Linked DNA regions of Homo sapiens. The protein of the gene in region 6 purifies or fractionates together with the protein of the main gene of each other region. This does not show direct contact. Each region holds a gene or a part of one and is shown on either strand. Other genes may lie near its edges.

Region 1 (3,500 bases), on a different chromosome or scaffold from region 6:
TAATGCCTCTGAGAATACAGAATTCTCCCAAGGGAGTGTTAATGTGGGACAGGAACTGGCGACAGGAGGCGCACTGTGCGGCACCCGCTGGCCAGTGCAAGGCCACCAGGATGAGCCCCTCAAGCTCTGAGTGGGCACTCTGCTGCCATGTGGCTCTCCTCAGAAGGGAGAGGAGGTTTGAGCTGGTGGGAAGGGCAGCTGGCGGGGCAGCACAGTCCTTAGTGACTTTGTCTCCTCTTTCAGACCAAGAGAAACAGCTGAGGTGGTCCCCTGGAGGAAGCCCACAGGGAAGTTCTGCTTTTCCACTCCAAGACCATAGCTCCTTTTAAGAGCCCCACAGCCTCCACCATAAGAAGGAGCATCCCCACTGAGCTCATCAGCACCCACTCGGCTCTGCTTCTGAGGGGTAAGGGCGAGCCTTGGGGAGTACATCTGGAGACTGCAGGGCCAGAGAACAGTTGAGGAGTCCCAGAAGGGTTCTGCAGCTAGGAGCACACAGAGATGCGTGGAGTAACCTCTCATGTTTGTCATTCTAACACTAGAGAGTTACCTTTTTTTTTTTTTTTTAAGAATTGTGGTCTCACTCTGTCACCAGGATGGAGGGCAGTGGCATGATCATGGCTCACTGCAGCCTCAAACTCCTGGGCTCAAGTGATCCTGTTTCAGCCTCCAGAGTAGATGGGACCACGGGTGTGTGCCACCACACATGGCTAATTTTTTAATTTTTTTGTAGAGATGGGGTCTCACTATGTTGCTCAGGCTGGTCTTTAACTCCTGGGCTCAAGGGATCCTCCCACCTCAGCCTGCCAAAGTGCTGGGATTACAGGTGTGAACTACTATGCCTGGCTTAAGAATTGCATTTTAAGTCATTCTATATACCAGGCACGATTTGACACAAAATATAATCAAACCTGTGGCAAAAGTGAGTGACTTACAAATAGATTTTATATTTTATTCTTTTTTATAATAAAATGCAAACTGCATGACTATAGTCATGATGACATTCAGGAGTCTGGGCAGCTGTGGTCTTCCTACACAGCAGTCCAGGCCTATCTTGTCTCAAACTCTCCTCCTACTCCTAATAGTTCCCCTAGAACTAAGCCAAAAAGAAAAGGGTTACTAACCCCAAACCAATGCAGAGAGCTCTCATATGAGCCTGCCCTTCTCATGAAGAAAGGCTAACAGATGATACAGGCAAGTTGCCTGGGTCTCATATTCCACTCCATTGCCTGCTAGCAGTGCAAGCTTGGGAAAGTCACTTACACCTCATGTGCCTTGATTTCTTCCCCTGAAAAGGGAGGGTAATGGTGGTATCTGCCAGTAGGAATGTGCCCAACTTAAATGAGCCAACACACATAAAGGCTTAGAATAGGAACCAGCACACACTGCTAAATTAATGCCAGCAATTATTACTCCTACTAGGAAGATTTGAGCACCATAACCCCCTACAGGAGCTACAAATACGAGTAACCAGGTAAGAAGAGGGTTCAACCAAAAAATCACTCTGCTCGTCCCATGCACACTCTCGGCATGATGTACAGAGTAGGCCAATAGTTCGCTGGCATTCACTTACTGCGGGATCTTTAGTGCAGCAGGAGAATGGAACGCCACATCGCTCTCGACTTGCATTGGAATCTGTGCAATTGAAGTAAATATTTAGGTTCCAATCATCAGCTCCAAAAGCCCCACAGCACTGCCACTAGAGCAAACAGGAAAGAATTAGAACATCCCAACTTGGAGGCAAGCAGTCACCTACACTCACACCCGCCGAACGACACCAGCTTCTGCCAGCTCTGACCTTCTTTTCTGTCCTAGACTTTATTTTTAAGCCAAACTGAACCTAAATGGCCCATATAAAATCTTCCAAATTAATTAGGGCTGAAGGTTTGTAGGGATGTGTTGGCACGTGATTTAAACAACTGATGAGACCTGTGGTGTTAGGTGGAAGAAGGGCAGAGCAGCTGTACAGCAGGGCTCAGTTAGAACAAGATCTGTTTGGCTTGGGCACGTCATTCTAGAAGGAGAAACAAGAACATTCTAGAAGGGTAAATAAGACACTAACGACAGTGGTAGTGACTGAAGGAGGCAACTGGGGTTATGGGTGGGCTAACTATAGCTTACTTTTTCAAAGTTTTGATCTCTACATTCTAATAGTTTTTTTAAAGATCTGTTTTGTTTTATGGAGCGCAGGGAGACCCCCTGAAACTATTGCTATGGAATAAAAGATGAAATGCTCCTGATTACTGGAAATACAAAATTGCATGCAGGATTGTGTAAAGACAATGCCAGGTTGGACTGCCAGAATGAGCCAACAGTGCGTGATGTGCTTCCCCCTGCAGAGAGCCTATGAATGGACGTGCAGTCAGGGAGGTTTCACATCACCAAGATTCCTATCCCAGAAAAGCAGATGTTCATAGCTCTGGGAATAGAATGCGACCTTTGTGGAGAGCCTATAAACAGACACATGAGGGGCACCTGTCCATATGTATAAGACAGGGCTATAAATGCCCTCATCTTGCCACGGCTCTTCTAGACCTCTTTAGGGTTAAGGCATACTCCCTTCTGAGAATTTCTGGTCTAACTGGTTGTGTAGCTTCACGTCCTGTTTCTATGGATTGTTTGTAACTGGCTTTTGCTGCAACTGTTACTGCTGACTAATATCTTGCTAATCATAGGTTGTGGAAAGACTGTGTTTCTGTTTTAAGGCTCTGTTAGAAATTACTGAAGCACACACTATATTGTAAATTCTTATCCCTGTATACTGTACTTTTGCATACAGATGTTATGTTAAAGAATTACTTCATCCCCATGTGACCATCTCACCTCATAATCAAATGACCTAAATCCCTCACTAACCTACCCCCACCCTCACTAAACTTAATAATAAATTCTGGTATATCCAGTGCATTGTTGGCACTGCGTGACCAGAAGGCGGTGACCCCCCTGGACCCAGCTTTCACTATCTTGTGTGTGTCTATTATTTCTCGACCTGCCGATCCGCCTGGGAACAGAGAGATCCCTGTTGCATTGCAGGCTGCTGGCCAGATCCCGCAATAATGGAGGTATAACTGACATACAATAAATTGCACATTTTAAAGTATACAATTTGATAAATTTTGACATCTGTATACATCACAAAAATGTCACCACAATCAATGGATATATAGTTGATATATCCATTACCACCAAAAATTTTAGAGGTTAACTTTTCATCATATTTGTTTCTACTCTGAGTTTGTTTAAAAACAAGTGCATGTGTTTTACATTTTCAACTTTAAAAAGTCAGTCTTCCAATTAAAATATATTAAAACAAGCGGTTAAATTCAGTGGTTCTTAAATGGGGCCGGAGTCAAAGGCTACTACACAAGCCCCTTCCTCACTTCCCTGGGATGCACTTTCTCTACTTCTCTGAGTTAAATAAATATCAAGTCTCAACCATTTGAAGACCTTCCGGACCAACAGCTACTTCTAAACATTACATTCCATGATGCAAAAAGAAA
Region 2 (3,500 bases), on a different chromosome or scaffold from region 6:
AACAATGAAATCCATTAGAAGATAACTGAAAGACCTATAGTCTAATGATTTGGCCTTAGAAAAACTGAAAGTGAAGAAATTCAGATATTGGCTCCTGTTTATCTTAAGTCAGCGATAATTCTACTAGTTTTTAAAGCCCTTAAACATATCATGGGAAATTCAAAGGGCTATAAATAAAAATATATATGAATAGATATATAAATTAGAACATATATATATTACACACATATATTCTTAATTTGATATTATCCGTATTTTGGAAGAGGGAACTGTGATGCAAATAACTAGTCTGTGGATCATTCAAGCATCTTTTAAAAAGCAGTAATAATGTAGCACATAATTTGTGGAAAATTGTTCATAATAGATGCTGAATATTGGACATTCCTTTTTGTATGTGACTACACATAACCACTATACACCACAGCAACTCTACTGCAATGTTGGAATCCTCTATGTCATTTGCTAATGCACTGTGTAGCCTTTATTGTCACTCATGTTAAAGAATTTGATGAAGGCCGGGCATGGCGGCTCATGCCTGTAATCCCAGCACTTTGGGAGACCAAGGCGGGCGGGTCATGAGGTCAGCAGATCAAGACCATCCTGGCTAACAGGGTGAAACCCCATCTCTACTAAAAATGCAAAAATTAGCTGGGCGTGGTGGTGCATGCCTGTAATCCCAGCTACTCAGGAGGCTGAGGCAGGAGAATCATTTGAACCAGGGAAGCGGAGGTTGCAGTGAGCCGAGATTGCGCCATTGCACCACAACTTGGGCAACAAGAGCAAAACTCTGTCTCAAAAAAAAAAAAAAAAAAAAAAAAAAGAATTTAATGAAAAAATGTAATCAAGTTTCTTGACTTTGGTACCCTAAATGATGATTTCAGGCTAAGCCAAGATAATATCAGAAGGTCCCATTGAGAGAATGAAAATGATAATGCCAGATGCTGGTTAGCTTGCAAACCAAAAATCATCTGTGGTATCGCACTTAATTGACTACGCCAGCACTTCCCAAAACACTGTTTCTCAGATACTTCAGATATTTACAGGAAGATGTTGATACTGTATTAGGTATTGGAGAATATTCTCATGGCCAAATTCATTTGGCAACAATAAGCTAACCTGGTCATTTAGCTTGGACTTTCTCAAAGCTGAAGTGTATTGAGAATTTTTAAGAAGGGGAATTATGATACACACATTATTCAATATTGTTTAATCATAAAATTCTCATACAAATATTACTCAATTACTCTATAAACTTTTTTTTTTTTTTGAGATGAAGTCTTGCTTTGTCATCCAGGCTGTAGTGCAGTGGCACGATCTCGGCTCACTGCAACCTCTGCCTCTCAGTTTCAAGGAATTCTCCTGCCTCAGCCTCCCAAGTAGCTGGGATTACACGCGCCTATCACCAAGCCCAGTTAATTTTGTATTGTTAGTAGAGATGGGGTTTCACATGTCCATAAACTTTCAACATCTTTGTGGCTTCTGTAACTACACTCAGGGGATTTTCTTCTTCCTATAAATCATTTCTAAACCTCCTTTGCTGGTTTCTGCTCTTTCCTGCAGTAAACTCATATGTTTCTGTGACTGAAACCAGCAGCTTTCTGCGGATGACTTTAAATTGAAATCATTCCAGAATTCCACACTGGAATGTTTATTAGTGTCTGTCTGGAAAGAAAGTTTCACTGGAGTGGTCAACAGCACCTCAATCTCATGCAACTCATTCACCTAAAAAACACTTCTAGAGAGTCTATGTTGACCTGGGCTCACAGCTAGTTGCTGGAGCTCTAAAAATCAGCATAATAATAAAACTACCTGAATAAATTTTAGCACAGCAAAATTAAAACCGTGCAATATCTGGCTTCCTCCTATCTCCCATGTTACAGCACTTTTCCAAAAATTTATTCCTCTACTGGACTGCTTTCTTTCTTTTGAATATTTTATGTATTTTTCCATGTGTCAACTGTTGTCAGACTGCATTCTCTATATTTTCTATATTTTTCCACATATTTAAATTTCTTTATTTCTTTTTTATTTATTTTTGTCTTTTTGTTTTTTTGTTTAGATAGACTCTTGGCTCTGTTGCCAGGCTGGAGTGCAATGGTGCAATCTTGGCTCACTGCAACCTCTGCCTCCCGGGTTCAAGCAATTCTCCTGCATCAGCCTCCCGAGTAGCTGGGATTTCAGGTGTGCACCACCAACATCAGCTAATTTTTGTATTTTTAGTAGAGATGGGGTTTCACCATGTTGGCCAGGCTGGTCTTGAACTCCTGACCTCAGGCGATCCACCCGCCTCGGCCTCCCAAAGTGCTGGGATTAAATTTCTTCATGGTCAATTCACATGCAAAAAAATGGCTCTCCCATTTGAATTAATAATGTCTTCCCATGAGCTTCCATTTTTCTGAATTTTTATTAAATTATACATTTTATTCTTTATTATATATCTTGAAATATAGATAGTTTGATCTATCTGTCTTCCCTACCAGACAGACAGTGCTTAGGGGCAGGAATTCTATTATTATTTTTGTATCACCATAGTGTCTAGCACAATGCTTCTTTCAGAGAAAACAGAGGATAAATGTATACTGGATTAGCAATTTTGATGGAGAGAGTAAATATTCCACTATACTCAGATCATATGTATAATATAGTGATATAGAGACTGCATTATGTAAATATGTGTTTAGAAATAAACTTGTCTAAACCTGTTAAACTTGCCAACTTTTTTTTTTGTTTATACTAATTTGTATGAAATTGTTATATTTGCTTACTCTAAATGACAGCTATCTACTCCTTGTAAGTTACAGTTGATTTAACCTTAACTTTATAGTATGGAACTATAGATGTGTGAAATTCAGATTTCTTTTTAATGCCATTATAATTTATAAGTGGGCAATGATTATTTTCTAAGAGGTAGAACCACATATATAGCCAACTCATTATAATCATTGACTTTAAGTATAAAAATAATAAAATATTTTCTACTATTTTAGACACTCTTCAATCACATTCACTCTGGAAATAGATAACTTTGCCTCATAGTAGAAAAAAATGAGTGACAACTAAACAATGATGTGGCTATAATAAAGAAAATATCATGAAACTAAAGCAACACCCAACTTCTATTTACTTTTGAGTACACATTCTTCAATTTTGTGCCAAAATATTTTTCCTGATTTTTCCCTAAAATAATTTAAGTGACGAAATTTATTAAGGAATGAAAAAAACAAAAAGTATTGCCATGGGTATTCAAATCACCCAGTTTTATTTAGGAAGGCATTTTATTCATGACTTTTGTCAAATGGAAAACAAAATGGCCTAATCAAAAAAAATGACATCAGCATATTTGATTCAATCTTGGAATTAGCGTGATCCATTAGCTACTGCATCAGATTCAGAATGTCTGATGCCAAAGTATTAAATAGAATAGTATCCCTCAAGAAACATACTACACATGTTGGGAGTTAGAAAATAACAAATTTTCTCTCTCATTCCATAAAGAACTG
Region 3 (3,500 bases), on a different chromosome or scaffold from region 6:
GGTTCCTGCTCTCCCAGGCAGGAAGTGGGAGGGCTCTGAAGAGGGAAAAACAAGCCCATCTGGGCCAAGGCTGTTTTCCTTCCACCCTCCAGTGAAATACTTGCTTCCCTGCAGGCCCAGATGCAAATGTCTTGGCGAGAAAGTCCCTTTTGGAAAAAATTAAAACCCAACAGTAACCTTTCCCACAGTGAAACAGTTCTTGTCCCAGGAACACATGCAAATGATGGTTCTCACACAAGTTACTTCCCCGCTCAGGGCCTTAGTCTCCTCCTCTATAAAATGGGACAAGGCACATGGGGTCATTCTGAGAATGCAAAGAGATGAAGCAAACTGTGGTGAGACACGTGGCAGACGGCGTCTCCTCCCAGCATCTGCATGAACGGTTACCCAGCCAGATGCCCACTCAGCGCTCTGTGGGCACTGCCTCATCTAAGCCTCACCCCTGTGGGCAGCACAACAGTTATCCCCTCCCAGCAGACAAGAAAACCAAGGCACAGAGAGTTGTCCATGACTTGTCACATGGACCTTCTCCTCACCCGCCAACCAAGAAGTGCTCATCCTCCTCAGCTCTGCTTGGCCTCCAGACCTGGTCTTCCCAGAGGACATTTCTGACCTCAACACTCAGGCCCAAAAAACATTCTGTAGCCCGCCCTCCCTCTCCTAAGACTCATCTCCACTCCTCTCTGCGAGGCCTCCCTGCCCAGTGAAGCCCTCAGAGTCCTCCCAAAGACTCCTCTGTAAAACAGGACAAGACCCCCTGTCCAGCCCAGCTCAAGGGTCACTCTGAGAATCCAAAGAGATGAAGCAAAATGTGGTGGTCAGGCCACCACAGTCAGGCAGCCTAGCTCAGACTGGCCCTTGATGGAACCAGCTCCTCCAGCCAGCTGGTCTGACCCCTTGGGCGTGCATGTGGTCTTTTCCAGGGACTGGGCCCTTCCCACCCCTTAGTTCCTGGGCTAACATGGCACATCGCCAGAGGCAGAGATGGCTGCCAGCTCCTTCACAGGCCAACCCTCTAGCTGGGGAAGGTGACATCGTAAGTCTACAGTGTCTCTACGGTGTCTCTTCCTCACCTCCACCAGCCCAGGGGCCTAGCTTGGAGCTGAACAACTCATGCTGACCGAGGGCTGGGACCCCTCAGAGCCTAGCAGGACACTTCTCAGACGGCCTGCCTGGCCCCGCGTGCCTGTTGTGGCCTAGTGCTTCTGACAGTGTGCCATGGTAGCCCAGAAACTAAGGGGTGGGAGGGGCCCAGCCTCTGGAAAAGACCACATGCACACCCTAGGGGTCAGACCAGCTGGCTGGAGGAGTTGGTTCCATAGCCATCTGTTCTAGGCAGGCTGAGTACCCCCAGGGGCAAAGGAGCCTCCTCTGACAAGACGGATTCCAGAGGTTCTCATCTCATCTCATCTCATCTCATCTCATCTCATCTCATCTCATCTCATCTCCCCAACTACCCCTGAGCAATGCAAGGCTCCCAGGTGACTCTCCCTCCCTCCGTGGGCAGGGAGCCCTAGAGTCTCCCTCCATTCGTGGGGGGGGGGTGCCTAGAGTCTCCCTCCCTCCGTGGGTGGGGGACCCTAGAGTAGGCCCCGTGCTTTGGCACCTCTCATCTCACAGGATCCTCCCCACTGCCCTCTGGGGTACCCACAGAGGAGGCATCTCGGAGGCTCAGAGAGCTGGTCCTTTACCCAGTGTCACACAGAATAGCCAACACCTGATCTAGGTCTCTGGATGGCAAGACCACAGGGCCTGACAATGAAACCCTGCTTCTCAGTCACTCGAACCCCAAACTCTTCACACAGCCAGGCCCCTGCCACCCTCTCCACCCACAGCGCAGCCCTTCCCGGGCTTCCTCATCTGCTGTAGCCATGCTTGCGACCTGCCTCAGGGACTTTGAACTCATGGCTCTCTCTGCCTGGGATGCTCTGGACAAGTCTTTATGGCTGGCTCCTTCTCTATTTGAGCTTCAGCTGAAATGTCAGCTCCTCATAAAGGCTTTCCCTGACCACATCATCGAAAGTGGAAACGCCCATCCCTCCCCACTTGCTCCCTAATTTTCTCCTTAGCACCTATCACAAGTGATATTTATTTACTGCTCTGTCTTCCAAGGCCTGGACTAAACCTGTCTTGTTCATAGTTGCTTCCCACACCTATCACGGTATCACAGTGCCTGGCATTCAGTAGGCATCAAATAACTATTTGTTGACTTAATGAACAAACCAACCAACCAGAGAGCACGGCTGGTTAAGACTGAATGCTCCTGCCTTCCAACAAGAAGTCAATTCAAACCCATTCACATCTAAAAGTTCTCTCTGGGAAAGGTTGTTTTGTTGTTGTTTTTTTTTTTTTTTTTTTTGTCTGTTTTGTTTTCCCCCCATCAACCTCTTCTGACCAGACTTACCCAGAAAACATCTTTCCCCTGTGTGGAGCCAGTTGGTACAGAAATTTCATTATCAGTCCCTTATCAGGTTGACCGTGAGCCCCACCCCAGGGTGGCACTGTGAGTCACCTGGGAAGAAAGGCCTCCGGGCAGGAGGGCAGGTGGTTATTCCTGCTTCTCCAGGAACCAACCCAAAGGCAGCAAGGTCCAGTCCTACGACATAAAGCAATTCCTCTATTAAAGCGGGGAACGAGACCATGTACAAAGTCTAGGTTAAGAGCGAAGGACACTTCTCAGGGCCTTAGTTTGCTCATCTATAAAATGAAGGTGTTGGAAGGTTCTCCAAACCCCTGGCAGGGCTGCAGCCCTGATTCTCTGGATTTTAAAGGCTCTGTGGCCAGACTGGGGGAGGGGAGGACCTCTCTGTGCCCGAGGCCTGAGCCCAGTCTGATGCTATGAGATCATCTCTGACAGCCCGTTAGGCACGGCTGGCCACTTCTCCAATATGAAGGCTGCCCCACTTTCAGCTTCACTATTTGAGTTTCACTATTTGGAATGCTTACCTAGAGCCAGAAAATGAACTTTGCTCGACAAATCAAACACAATAAGAAAGATAATTAAAGAAATAAAATGTCTACATATATGTACAAGATGTCCAGATGGATGTTTACCAACATATAACAGTGGCTGAATCCCAGTGGTAGAATCAAAGGGGACTTTTGCTGTTTTCGTTGTACTTTCCCAAATGGCTTGAATCTTTTAAGCTATGCGCATGTATGATTTTCACAAAAATAATAAAGCTCTTCTCGAAAGTAAAAATCTCCTGGAAACTGTCTCCAGAGAAGTGCTTTCTTTTTGGCCTGGCTTCACCTAGTGCTTCACTGGGAGGCCAGGGACGTGGCCTCTTTCAGAAAGGTTATCTTCTACCCTCACCCTGAGACCAGGGAGAAACATACATGGCGCCTGGAAAGGTCATGGGGGCCCGAGGAAGAAACTGGAGTCAGGCAGCCTGGATCTGGTCTTGGCCTGTCACTGACTTGCTGTGGGCTTTCAGGCAACTCACTTCTCTTCAGGCCTCTGATTTCTTATCGGTAAATTTAAAAGGCTGCACTAGAGG
Region 4 (3,500 bases), on a different chromosome or scaffold from region 6:
CAGTAGAGCTGGATATGATTCATTAGCTCAAAAGTGTGACATCTACAGTTCTGAGGTACTTTATAGATTTAAAAGGCTATATGGACTGGTTTGGGAGTTGAACCATCATGTATAATAATGAACTTATGAGGCCAGGTGTGGTGGCTCGTGTCTGTAATCCCAGCACTTTGGGAGGCCAAGGCAGGCAGATCACCTGAGGCCAGGAGTTCGAGACCAGCCTGGCCAACATGGTGAAACCCTGCCTCTACTAAAAATACAAAAAAAAAAAAAAAAAAAAAAAATTAGCCGGGTGTGGTGGTGCGCAGCTACTCAGGAGGCTGAGGCAGGAGAATTGCTTGAACCCGGGAGGTGGAGGTTGCAGTGAGCCAAGATAGTGCCACCACTCTCCAACCTGGGGGACAGAGTAAGACTCCGTTGCAAAAAAAAACCAAAACAAAACAAAACAAAAACCTATGGAAAAATGTGTCATGAGTGAACTTGAAGGAATTAGTTGTCTCTTGGGGAGGTTTATTTATCCAGTGTAGTATATTTTCTTTTCTTTTTCTTTTTTTTTTGAGACAGAGTCTTGCTCTGTTGCCCAGGCTGGAGTGCAGTGGCATAATCTCAGCTCACTGCAAGCTCCACCTCCCAGGTTCATGCCATTCTCCTGCCTTAGCCTCCCAAGCAGCTGGGACTACAGGCGCCCGCCACCACGCCCGGCTGATTTTTTATATTTTTAGTAAAGACGGGGTTTCACCGTGTTAGCCAGGATGGTCTCAATCTCCTGACCTCGTGATCTGCACACCTCGACCTCCCAAAGTGCTGGGATTACAGGTGTGAGCCACCACACCCAGCCCTTTTTTTTTTTTTTTGAGACGGAGTTTCCCTCTTGTTACCCAGGCTGGAGTGCAATGGCGGGATCTCGGCTCACTGCAACCTTCGCCTCCCAGGTTCAAGCGATTCTCCTGCCTCAGCCTCCCAAGTAGCTGGGATTACAGGCGCCCACCACCACGCCTGGCTAATTTTTGTATTTTTAGTAGAGACAGGGTTTCACTATGTTGGCCAGGCTGGTCTCAAACTCCTGACCTCAGGTGGTCCACCCGGCTCGGCCTCCCAGAGTGCTGGGATTACAGGCGTGAGCCACCACGCCCAGCCTATCCAGTGTAATGTATTTTGTTTGACTCAGACTCAGTCTTTTATTGAAATCAGTTTTTAGCAAGCACCTACTATTCTTGAATATTGGGCTGGTAAAAGGATAAGAAGGAAAAGAAGGGTAAGATTCAGGCCTCAAACTATCAGTATAGTTAGGGGAAATAAAATACCTTATATGGGGAAATAGGAAAATATCAGTGAGTGTTATAAATTGTACCATAGCAATTTAGAACAAAAGAGTGAAAGGAATGCCAAGTTAAAGGAGGGAACAGAGCCAGATGCAGTGGCTCATGCCTGTAATCCCAGCACTTTGGGAAGCCGAGGCAGGTGGATCGCTTGAGGCCAGGAGTTTGAGACCAGCCTAGCCAACATGGCAAAACCCCGTCTCTACTAAAAATATAAAAAATTAGCCAGGAGTAGTGGCATGTGCCTGTAATCCCAGCTACTCAGGAGGCTGAGGTGGGAGAATCACTTGAGCCTGGGAGGCTGAGGTTTCAGTGAACCAAGTTTGCACCACTGCACTCCAGCCTGGGTGACAGAGCAAGACTCCATCTCAAAAAAAGAAAAAAAAAATGACGGAACAGAGCAAGGCTGGTTCATCAGGGGAAACCTACAAGCTGAATCTCAAGGCATTCTTTCTACCCTTCTTTAGTGTGAATGGACATGGATTGATTGAGAGAGGAGAGGAGTATAATAAGGAGAAAAAAAGAATCAAAGCCAGAAACTAGTAAGCTATTTATGTGGTACAGCAATATAATTAGTTTAACTATAATAGAATTCCCTGATAAGAATCCTAGGTTCTTGTCACTTCCTTTTAGAATTTCTGGGAGAGGGATCGCATATAGTTTCATTATCTCAAGGTGAAAAATACAGTGATTTCTGAAACCTGAATGATAGAACTGAGGGATTCCCTCTTCCTTAGAGTCATACTTTCTCCTTTTAGTTTAAACTGATAGGGACATAGTTTCATTGTGATTCAGCATTATCGGAATGGTCCTGAGGATGCTTTTGCCCCCTCAGATTCTGAATTGGTAGGCTCTGTCCTATTCTACTTGGTTTGTTTAAAATTTAGATAGTGTTTAAAATTTAGATCTATAGATCCATCCATCTACCTATCTATCTCTATCTATCTATGTATCTGTGTATCTTTGTGAAGTGCTAGTCATTTGGGTTATGTATTTGGTGAGTATTCAATATACTTTTACTGTAGATTATTAAATAATGAATTCTGAGGACTATAGGGAGAAAGCCAGAACATAGTGTAATAATCTGTGTCTTTCATTAGAGATCAGAAAATGTAATATTTCTTCTGCATTCATTCAAAAAAATTATTGAGTACCTATTATGTACAGGTTGTGGTAGCTACTAGGGATATAGCATGAATGAGCAGAGCTTGTAGTCTGAAGACAGACATTAAGCATCTCATTATACAAATAATTATTTAATTCATGTGTGATAAGTGTTGCTGATTAAAAAACCCAGATGCTACCAATGCATATGACAAGAGTGCTGATCTTGAGTATGACTGGGGGGTAGGTAGAATGGTCAGTGATTAAAGCAGACACCTACAATTTGAGAGAACACAGGCAGGGGAGGGAAGGTATACATGTAAAGAAATAGCAGGCATGAAGACTGAGATGGGAAGGAGTTTGTGGTGTATCTGAGGTCTAGAACACAGCACAGTGAGCAAGAAGGAAACCCGTGGTCTGAGCCTAAGGAAGTACACAGGTGCCAGGTCATGTGGGCCTTGTAGGGTATGTTAAGGATTTTAGACTTTGATTTTAAAGCAGTATGACGTTAGTGAAAGGTTTAATTCTGTGGAATGACATAATCAGATTTGTACTTTAAAAGGCTATGCTGGCTATGTGACAGAAAATGGAGAGGGTAGGGGCTGGGGAGGGTAGGGGAAGAAGATATGTGGGGAGATGAATTAGGAGACTGTTGCAGTGGTGTGAGAGACAGTGGTGTCTAGGCTATGTGGGGGCCATCATGATGTGGAGAAATGGGTGGATTTCAGAGATACTTAGGAGGCAGAAATTACAGGCTTGGAGGTTAATTGAATGTGGGGAGTAAGGAAAAGGTAGTGATGATTTCCAGGGTTTTAATAAGAGCAGCTTAATGAATAGGGTTGTCATTTACTGAGCTGGAGGGAGGAGTCTGTTTAGTGGGCGAAGATCATTAACTCAGTTTTGAACGTGTTGATTTTGAGGTGTTTATGAGCTTTCTAAGTGGATATATTGATTGCCTATGTGGTTGAATATACACATCTAGAGGACTGGACTAGAGATAACACCTTTGGGAGTGTCGGCATAAAAATGGCATTTGAAATTATGACATGGGTGAACATACCTGAAGAATGAGTAGGAACA
Region 5 (3,500 bases), about 69 Mb from region 6:
TGACCTCGTGATATGCCCGTCTTGGCCTCCCAAAATGCTGGGATTACAGGCATGAGCTACCGCACCCAGCCGAGTATTTGTATTTTCTGTGTATTCAGTCCAATCAGCAAAAAAGTGTTTTCTTTTGATTTTCTTGTTTCATTATATTCAGTAAACTCACCAAGGTAGTATTAAATAATCATGGTGAAATTGCAATATCTGGATCTTACTTGGATCTTGATTCACATGAAAAAAATGAGAGAATAGAGAATATGAATACTGATTGGATATTTGATTGCATTAAAGAACTAGCTATGTGTAATGGTTTGTCATTTTTAGGAGCCCTTATTTTTAGATATGTGTAGTGGAATATAAATGAAATGTTACATCTCGTATTTGCTTCATAATCATCCAGGCAGTGGCATTGATGATTGTGGAAATAGATGAAACATTATTGACCTTCAGTTGCTAATTGTTGAAGCTGGATAATGGATAGCACATGGGGGTTTTGTTTGCTTTTTGTATAGGTCTTCATGTAAAAGTTTTCATGTAAGTGCTTAAAAATAATTATGGAAGGGCATTCCTGCCGAATTATCGGTTGTAATTTAAATAGATTTAATTTTCTATTGTTTAGAAAACAGTATTTGCCTTTGGTTTTCAGAAATATCCTGAATTAGATTTAAGCAGTTTTCCTTTTTTTCTTTTTTTGAGACAGTCTCACTCTGTCACCCAGGCTGGAGTGCAGCAGCACCATCTCGGCTCACTACAGCCTTCACCTCCTGGGCTCAAGGGATCCTCCCACCTCAGTCTCCCACTTAGCTGGGATTACGGGTGCCCGCCACCACACCCAGCTAATTTTTTTGTATTTTTTGTAGAGACAGTGTTTCACCATGTTGTCCAGACTGGTCTTGAACTCCTGAGCTCAAGCGCTCCTCCTGCCTCAGCTTCCCAAAGTGCTGGTATTACAGGCGTGAGCCACCACACTCTGCCAGCAGTTTTCTTACTGTTTTCATTATGATTGGTTGCTGAATTTCATATGCCTCATCAGCATCTATTAATGCATGATTTTTTTTCCCCTATACTGTGTTGTTGGATTAATATTGGTAGATGCTTTTGATACATTCCTGGAATCTAATTGCTAGCAAATATTGTATTCAGGATTTTTGCATTTATATTTGTGAGTGAGATTGGCCTATGGCGTTCATTCATTCCTTTGTTCCTTTCTTATGTCTCCATCTGGGTTTGTTATTAAAACTGTGCTGTCTTCATAAAACAAATTGTTTTCCCTTTTCTCTGTAGAGGCTTGGAATAGTTAAATGACTTTGGTCTTGTCCAAGGTTAGATGGAGTTCAACTCTAACGTCAAGTCTTGGTCCTTTTCATTGGTATGTCTTTAATCAGCTGCTTAGTGATACTTGTTTTAGTCAGATTTTCCAGTTTTTGGTTCTGTATTGGTAATTTACAGTGCCCATTTTTTCTGCATTTTCAGATTTGGGGCCATTTTGCTACATGTAGTCTTCTCTGTCATTATTTTAGCTACTTTTCTATATTTGCTATTTTTTCCTGAATTGGGCTTGTGAGGAATTTGTTTTAGAAAACCAGCTTTTGCGGCCAAGCACGGTGGCTCAGGCCGGTAATCCCAGCACTTTGGGAAACCAGGGTGGGAGGATCACCTGAGGTCAGGAAGTTTCACCTGGCCAGCATGGTGAGACCCCATCTCTACTAAAAATACTAAAATTAGCTGGGCGTGGTGGCGGGCACCTATAATCTCAGCTATTCCGGAGGCTGAGGCAGGAGAATTGCATGAATCCAGGAGGCAGAGGTTGTAGTGAGCTGAGATCGCGCCAGTGCACTCCAGCCTGGGCAACAAGAGCAAAACTCCATCTCAAAAAACAAAAAGAAAACCAGCTTTTGGATTTGTTTACCCTTCTTTTTCCCCCCCTCATAATTCATTTTTTCTCTTTATTGATTTCCTGTTTTATCTCCTAAGTTTTGCTTTTATCTTCCTTCCATTGCTTTCTAGAGATTGCTTATGGCTTTGCTTTTGTTACCCTCCTTGATCCTGGGGATATCCAGTAATGTAACAAATTACTGGGAGTTACTTTTCATCTTTTTCCACCCAATTTAAGCAGATAATTATTTGAGAACATTGACTGTAAAAATGTTTTTCAAATTTTGTTTAGGCTTTTTTTTATGGTAGATACATGACTTCAAACATTTTTTAAGGTATTGATTCAAATTTCTCTATGTCTGCTAAATCAGATGTATTTGTTGTATTACTCAGTTCTTCTCTGTCCTTGCACATACTGTGTTTACTGAATCTGTCCGGTTCTCAGAGAACTCTATTAAAGTTTCTCACTTGAATTTTTTTTTTTAAGTTTGTATTTTTCCTAGTCCTTGCTTTATGTGTTTATCTACAGTGATTATTTGAATATACAGGCTTATGAATATTACATCTTCCCTATAAATTGTTTCTTTTATCATTATAGCTTGTTATCCCTGTTATTCTGCTTATTTTTACTTTAATTCCCACCTTGGCTGATAGTAGTGTTGTCTCTCCTCCATGTTTGCACTAGCCTGCTATTTTTTACCTTGTCCCTTTATTTTCAGCCTCTCTTTGTTCCTTTTGCTTTAAGCATATACGTTATAGCTGGACGGTTTGTTGTTTTTGTTTTTTTTTTCCCTTGGTTTTTCAGGCCAATCTGTCTTCTCCTTTAAGCAGAGAATTTGGTTATTTCACATTTATACTGATAACTGATATTCTTGAATTTTGTCCCCATTGTCTTGATTTAGGATTACTTCTGATTTTGTTTCTTCTTGTTCCTTTTCCATATTTTTGCTGGTTTGATGAAGTTGCTGTTTCCTCCATATTTTTCTCTTAATTTGGAAGTTCTCATTGTTATTTTCTTTAATGATTACCTTTTTTTTTACTTTCATAATCAGATACTTATCTCTGTATTATTTGAAAACGAGATGCCAACTCCTTCTGCCAAAACTGTCTGTATTACATCTGACCCTTCTCTTTCCCTTTAGGAAGTTCTACTCCTCCACACTCACACTTGCTCTCAATTCTTAGGTTTTGCTGAAATTAAAGGCTCTTGAACCTTACTGCTACTATCCCTTGGTTAACCAAGCCAAATAACACTGGGGATGCAGGGATCTCATTTCTTCCAAAGTAGCTGGGAACATTTCCAGTCAAAAGGGAAACAGAGGACACAGTATTCAGGAAGTTAAGATTTGGGGGAGGGGAATCGAGAGGCAAAGTGAGAGAAGCTTTTTAATAAGTTTCTAAGCTCCAGAGGGAACCAAATTTGACAGCAGTCATCTTTCTTGGGGTTGTTACTGAAGGTTAGCCAACAGACTCCATGCTTTCCAAAGCTTCAGGGTTTCTAAAATTTGTTTAAAAATTCCACATATCTCTGGCTGGGCACAGTGGCTCACACCTGTAATCCCAGCACCTTGGGAGGCTGAGGCGGGCGGGTCATGAGGTCAGGAGATCGAGACCATCCTGGCTAACACAGT
Region 6 (3,187 bases):
ACAATATGATATGTAAAATATCTGATTATCAGATTAGATTAAGAATAATTTTTAAATGGCATAAACCAAAGATTATTTCATGCCCCTTTCCCACTAATAAAATGCAAATCATGTCACAAGTATTTTACAAATTACTATTTGAATATGCCAGTGTTCCAACAGGTCAACTTTATAATCTTTTTCTCTCCTCTGAGGCTCTAGTACACATATCACTTCTCTCATTAGCCAGGAGGTCATTTATGTTGCCTGGATTTGCTATTGTGCTTCTAATTAAGCTATTTCATTAATCACATAGTAACTGTTTCCTGCAATAAAAATCATGTGCTGCATAGGACTTCAGAAGTGCATCACTACACTGAATTTCAGAGCACTCCCTAATTTCTCTTCTTTTGCAAAAATACATTTACCTTTAAACTGTTAATGTGTGTGTTTATATATATATATAAAATTCATTTAAATAGTCAATCTGATCCAAAGTATATTTTTACTGAGAATATATCTGAAAAAATTTGAATTGAGATTAAATTTTTAAATGAAATATATTTACTTTTTTTAAAAAAAGGTGTTTTCAACTTTAAAATGCAGTTTAGAAGAATGAGGATATTGATAGAACTGTTAATGTGTTTATTGTGTGACGTCAATAGTAACAGGACATTTATGTTGAATGATGTTATGTTATAAAAATGCCATGGAGCAAGATAAAATTATATGTATAGTTATCACTAAATCAATAGGCAAAATGGACCAAGATGTTTTGTTCCAGGTCATTTCTACATGGATTCATTTATTATTCTGTGCAAAAAAAAAGAAAAAAAAGCCAAAGTACCTATCTATTACAAAATATGACTGCTGTCTACCCCATTTAAACAAAGAGGGAAATTAAGGGTAATATGTAAAGCTGAATGGCAATGTTGTGATTCACTGTGATAGTGCCATGGAAAGGATTACAGGAGTAATTCTGTCCTCTCATGCCCACGTAAATGGTGAAAGGGATCACTAGCAATTCCTATTTCCATGTATTTCCAAATAAGAGAAACTTGAATTTAAAATCAACTGAGATCCAAGGTTGGATAAAATCTCTGGATACATGAAATATGGTCAAACTCCATCACAACATATTGCAATAAAAACTGTTCAGGGTATTTTTTGTACTAGAATTTTGTAGATGGAAGGTAACTTTGGTAAGGGATCATCTTCTGAAGTTGGCCATAAAAGCCCATCATGCTGATAATCAGTTTGTTGTAATGGTCTTTGACCTGTAGGAGACATGCAGGAAATGGAAGTTGCATGCTTAGCTAGCATAAAACGATTCCTGAGCAACAGTAAAAAGCATTCCAAGCCTTCCCCATCACTTTATAGCAAAGAGAACAAAAAGATGACAGTGAGGAAGCCTCACCAAGAGAAACACAACATTTCCAACATGCAACAGGTTAATTAGGCGGTCGACACAGCTTCTATCTGTGGAAAATTCCAAAATGGACAAGAAATCTAGAATGATTTCTTATGCATCTTTGAATTCCCTAGTGGAATGCTACATACCGAATTAATAACACATTGCAAACTGGGCTACTATGGAGGGCTAAAAGTCTCTTTTTGTGTGTACAAATATTGCAAATTTTCTTCATTGCTGTGGTAGATATTTAACAAGAACATAAAATAACTCACCTGCAACGAAAGACTGTGCATTAAAAAAAACAAAAACTGAGCTTTCAAGTGAAATAAAATAAAACAAATCCAAGCAAGGCAAGCCAGTGTGGACATTTGGAAACATCTGTTAATGGGACACACATAGCAAGCTGTTGTTCTTAAAGTTAGCCACCACAACCATAGCGGGTCCCACAGCTAGCAATTAAAAAACATTGATCAATTACCAATTACAGAAGTAGATCAATACTATGCATCAGAAGTAAGCCTCTCTTTATCAGATGGCTGAGCATGGATCTCAGCCTTGTGATATGTGGCATCATAATGATCTTTCTTATTTCTCTTGAAGAAACCACACTACAAGGAAGCAAGGTATTTAGTCAATTTTACAGTTTTGTGTATAAGAGCCAAACAACAGAACATCTCAAATTTTAATCTGCCTTCTACTAGTGGCTTGTTTACAAACAGACCACTTTCAGTCAACCAACAATGAACAGCCACTGCATTGTTTCATTGTCATATTCAATACACCCTTCACCATACATCTCTGGTCAAATATTTATATGGATGACACTAGTCAGCTCATTGATTTTTCTCTTTGTAACAGAAATCTTGTGGACAAAAATCATTCTAATAGGGAAAACGTATATACATTGCTGATTGTAGCTTTGGGTAGTTTCTTCCTGCAGGAGAATATGAACTCCAAAAGAGGCAAAAGATTGACTTCGGCAGTTTATTGAGACAAAGGTTAGAAAATAAATTCTCTAAATAAAAGCACAAATCCAAATAAAATATAGATATACTATGGGTATTTTTCTGCCTTTTACAGTAAATTTTATGGAACAAATGCCATTTACTTGAGGCCTTTGGATCTGTGGGGTGAATCACAATACAAATTCGAATACACCATCATGAAAGAATGATTGCTGTCATTTTCCCAAACTCTGAGCACCATAAAACCCTTAAATGGTAGGGACCCAATGCTCCTCAGGTTAGGTCACTCTAAATGAGTATAAAAGTATAATTCCACTTTCTACTATAATTTCCTTCGTTCAGTGATAGAGAACTTTTCCTATTTACTTTTATCTAGTTCATAAGGCCATGGAACTGTCTTTTATAAAATTTAACCTGGTCAAATAAAATCTCCTGAAAAACTCTGATTCCTAGTCCAGCAACTCATGAAGGTAAAAGCCTAGATTCACTTTGTACAATATATGGGAGCTGCTGGCTCCGTGAGGCTATTCAGATTGAAATTAATTTAAATTACATTTAAAACTCTGTGCCTCAAGTGAACCAGCCATATTCCACGTGCCTAACCGCCACACATGACTAATGGCTACCATACTGGATGCTGCAGCTCCAGAACATTTCCATCAGTATAGAGTTTTGTTGGGCAGCTTTCAATAATATGTGCTAGTAAATAGGGTGGGAAGAAGAATAAACCAGGAGCCAAGAGGCCTGGTCCTGCCTCCAACTTGGCAACATTCTTTCCTTTTTTTGAGACAGAGTCTCACTCTGTTGCCCAGGCTGGAGTGCAGTGGCA
Region 7 (3,500 bases), on a different chromosome or scaffold from region 6:
GTGTCATATTGTCATAGAAAATAATAATTTCTGTAAAAAAAATCTGCACAAAATCTTATGATGGTACAAAACATGAAGCAATAATATACCAGTAAAATGAAAACATTTTACTACAGAAAGTTTTATAGATTTCCATAAAGAAAAAATATGTTATTTTACACCTTTAAAAATTACAAAACAATCTAAAACAATATAAACTGAACATTTTGTAACACTGCCTTTACAAATTAATAACTTTATAAACATATAATTTTTAAATATATTTATCAGTGCAAGATACTTTAAATTTTAAAGTTGCAGTATCATTTTTCCTTGGCTGAGGACAACTTTAAGTCTGTTGCCTTTAAAAACAACAAACGAGTGTTTCTTAGTGCTTTCCTTCTGGTAGGATTATATCAACTAAATGAATGTCTCTGGGGACAAAAAACTATTCTTCTTTCATGGTGATCAATATTTTCCTGGAAACAAAAGGCATTCTCAATCCAATTTAACTAAGATGAATGGACTGTCTCGTCTATGATGCAAATGTGACTCCCAACAAATGTCTTTGAGTGAGACGTCTAGCAATGTGGGAAGGAAGATCTAAAAAATCTCATGTCCAACATGGCATGATAAAAATCCACCAAAACCAACCAAAGCTTCTTTGGGTTAATTCATAGGCTGCCTGGTAAGATATTTGCTTCCCTGTGCTGTTAGAGGCTTAGATGTTGCCAGCCCTAAGGCAGGCTTATTCTTTGTGAGCCGCTGGAAGTTTCTAGAAGCATTCATTTAAGTCTATTTTTTCAAGGTTGCTGTTATGAATTTTTAAAACATTTGTTTGACTTTATGTGTTTTTCCCCCTCTTATCTTAAAATACTTGACCCCCAGGCATCAGGATTTATAGTTTCATTCTTAAATTAACTGTTCTTCCTTCCACTTCCCTTGTGTGACTCAGTAGCAAAATAAGAAAGTTCTCTTGGGTCATTTTTGCATATTTGGATAGAAAAATCTCATGCTTTTGGATTTGGAAGATTTTATCCAGTTCTTCCTTTGGGTCTCACTTGAAAGCCAATTTGTATTATTTCTTTCCTCAACTTATCACTATTTCTACTAAATGCCAACATTTCTATCAAAGGTCATTTTGAATAGAATAGATAAGGAAAAAAGATACTGTCACTTTAACCAGTTAACAAGAAAACCAAAGTTAGACTTTGGAGGGCAAAGTTAGGAATTTCCCTTATTTATTTATTTTTAAACATAAAGTCTAGTAAAATCGTTTGCCATTCCCAGCAGGTTAAAGCTGCAAGTTTCTTTCCTGGACAATGGCAAATCCTCCAATTCTAAGAGAGAAAAAAGACAGAGAGATAGGAGAGAGAAAGAGAAGAGAGTTTACATTTGAAAATACATTCCATATGAAAGAACAATAAGAGAGAATATTGTAGCTTTATACAAAAGGGTCAAGAAACATGAAATTGAACTACAGAAAAAGCAGAACAATTAAGCCACGTTGCCAAATCTTCAGAGCCCTTGCCTGCCCGGAGGGGCTGGCATCTCACACGAAAATAAACTTTCTTCTTAGTCAGTGGGCCACCAGAGTTTGATTAAAGAGCAGGGCTTTCACCAGCAAGAAGCAGAGTGGGTCGTTAATGTAACACAATGAACCAGTACAAACAAAAAGGCACTTGAGAGGACATAGACTAGCCAGTGCCAAGGATTTGTGTTTTTGTTGTTGCGGTTGTCAGCAGTATACCCAGTGGCCAGCCGTGTTCAGGGATGGCACCGTTTTCTGTATGGAGTTCACAAGCACGAGGTTTAGTACAACACCGGAAAAACAGCAAGAAAACTGGACAGTATTGCTTCGTAAACAGAGCTGACACACTACACCAGTACTGAGGCTACAGTACTTTAAAAAGAAAACAGCCTAATCCTTCTTTGCCTATGCACGACGCGGGCAATTATACACAAGTACAACTTCAGGAGTCCACTGAAATGCGGTGATTCTAGTATATTCTGGGCACTGGGTTTCAGGTAGCATGTCCATCCAAAGGGCCACACGGAATACGCTTGGTGCCAGCATCTTGGATTTCGCTCAGTTTCCAAAAAGAATCCACAAAGGGGAGAGGAGAGAGAGAGAGAGGGGCAGGAGGGGTCGAAATGAATGATTATGTCAATCATACTTGGTCTCAACACCAGCATCTGATTATTCAAATGAAACCAACAGGAAAAAAGCTGACTGCACATGAGTCCGATGGTGAACACAGCTCCTTGTCCATGTCTGTCGGCCATACTCATTGAAGCTCCTGAGAAAAGCCTGGCTCAGTGGTCATCAACACACTTCCCAGCCTGTATAGTGAAAGATCAACAGCTCCCCAGCTCACTCCCGTCCTTCCACTTCCGTCCTTTGACTGTCTTTTCATCTCTGTCTGCCTTCATGCCTCCGAATAAGTACTCTGTGTATTCAGTTTGTCTTTTTTCAACTTCACACCATCCACAAGTTCAAAGTTATAGTTCTCCAGGGCAGACAAGTTTCTTTCTGACATCCCATTATGCCAACAGGCACAGTACAGCACGACCCCACAGACAGCCCCCAGGAGGACCCCCAGGGCACTCATGGCTATGATGGTGATGAGGATGGGGTCTAAGGTCTTCAACACATTGCCTGGCTTCCTGGAGATGTTCTTGTCACCTTCTCCTTCACCTTCGTATCCTGGCGTGCTCCCTATGGAAAAAAACAATATTGTCTCCGTGAGCACCGCCAACAGACCAGATGAAAGCAGACAGAAAAATAGAAAGGAACGAAACAGGAGCAAATCACACACCCCAGTTTTGCCTGTCATATCTGACTCATTGTTGGGAACAGAAGTGTGGGAGGTGGTAGAGGGGAGTGGGCGCTGGGGCTTCTGACAGACTGCTTAGCACGTGGAAACAACCCATTCTGGATCAACTGGGAGGTTCCTTGCTCATCTAACTCAGATTTCATGCAGCCCCATCTGTCCTAGATTGTAATCTGTGTTTACAGTCCTTGGCTAGATAGGTGATCATTAAGTTTTGCAAAATGCTTAGTCACACATTAGTCTAGCAAGGGGATTTTACCATTCCCAGTGCATGTACCTAACCCCAAAACAGGCACAAGAAAAACCTTCATGGCTGCCCTTCTACGTGGTGCTGTTTCCAGGATCTGGCATGGTTTATGCATGTGTTTGTTCTCCCATATGGAAAATCTTCAAGTGAAACGAATTTTGCCCAAAGTCTACAGTAGTTTCAGTAAAGAAGGAGTGATTTTTTAGAACAAGAGAATGCTTGCTGCTGACATGTAAACAGAGTGTGGCTCAAATCGAGAAACCATGTCTGTCATGCCAAATAGAAGACATTTACTAATAATCAGCATCTTTGCAGCCCTGGTAGTTTAACTGGAGACAGTTGCACTGCTCTGCAGCTCAGTCACTGGGGACTTGTTTTCTTTGGAGTGGAACAGGAGAAATTGTTAACATGGGAGCTTTGAGCCTAATTACCTGGTACTA

What was found.
Region 1: the proteins of ITGA6 (region 6) and TSPAN5 purify together in Homo sapiens (co-immunoprecipitation; one large-scale study listed by IntAct). This does not show direct contact.
Region 2: the proteins of ITGA6 (region 6) and TRDN purify together in Homo sapiens (co-immunoprecipitation; one large-scale study listed by IntAct). This does not show direct contact.
Region 3: the proteins of ITGA6 (region 6) and TSPAN15 purify together in Homo sapiens (co-immunoprecipitation; one large-scale study listed by IntAct). This does not show direct contact.
Region 4: the proteins of ITGA6 (region 6) and OSTM1 fractionate together in Homo sapiens (co-fractionation; one large-scale study listed by BioGRID). This does not show direct contact.
Region 5: the proteins of ITGA6 (region 6) and SEPTIN2 fractionate together in Homo sapiens (co-fractionation; one large-scale study listed by BioGRID). This does not show direct contact.
Region 7: the proteins of ITGA6 (region 6) and NRP1 purify together in Homo sapiens (affinity purification with western blotting, with the first as the bait; one study listed by BioGRID). This does not show direct contact.

What each region holds. Positions count from the first base shown.
Region 1 is NC_000004.12:98,477,112-98,480,611, forward strand, and holds part of TSPAN5 (tetraspanin-5), read right to left. Parts: intron 1,700-3,500; coding exon 1,574-1,699; intron 1-1,573. UniProt on the Homo sapiens protein: Part of TspanC8 subgroup, composed of 6 members that interact with the transmembrane metalloprotease ADAM10.
Region 2 is NC_000006.12:123,504,451-123,507,950, forward strand, and holds part of TRDN (triadin), read right to left. Parts: intron 1-3,500. UniProt on the Homo sapiens protein: Contributes to the regulation of lumenal Ca2+ release via the sarcoplasmic reticulum calcium release channels RYR1 and RYR2, a key step in triggering skeletal and heart muscle contraction.
Region 3 is NC_000010.11:69,457,965-69,461,464, reverse strand, and holds part of TSPAN15 (tetraspanin-15), read right to left. Parts: intron 1-3,500. UniProt on the Homo sapiens protein: Part of TspanC8 subgroup, composed of 6 members that interact with the transmembrane metalloprotease ADAM10.
Region 4 is NC_000006.12:108,068,242-108,071,741, reverse strand, and holds part of OSTM1 (osteopetrosis-associated transmembrane protein 1 precursor), read left to right. Parts: intron 1-3,500. UniProt on the Homo sapiens protein: Required for osteoclast and melanocyte maturation and function.
Region 5 is NC_000002.12:241,318,925-241,322,424, forward strand, and holds part of SEPTIN2 (septin-2), read left to right. Parts: intron 1-1,278; exon of another isoform or gene 1,279-1,363; intron 1,364-3,500.
Region 6 is NC_000002.12:172,500,586-172,503,772, reverse strand, and holds part of ITGA6 (integrin alpha-6 isoform b preproprotein), read right to left. Parts: intron 2,002-3,187; coding exon 1,894-2,001; 3' UTR 1,872-1,893; intron 466-1,871; exon of another isoform or gene 1-465. UniProt on the Homo sapiens protein: Integrin alpha-6/beta-1 (ITGA6:ITGB1) is a receptor for laminin on platelets. Integrin alpha-6/beta-1 (ITGA6:ITGB1) is present in oocytes and is involved in sperm-egg fusion.
Region 7 is NC_000010.11:33,177,668-33,181,167, forward strand, and holds part of NRP1 (neuropilin-1 isoform a precursor), read right to left. Parts: intron 2,699-3,500; coding exon 2,409-2,698; 3' UTR 1-2,408. UniProt on the Homo sapiens protein: Cell-surface receptor involved in the development of the cardiovascular system, in angiogenesis, in the formation of certain neuronal circuits and in organogenesis outside the nervous system. Mediates the chemorepulsant activity of semaphorins.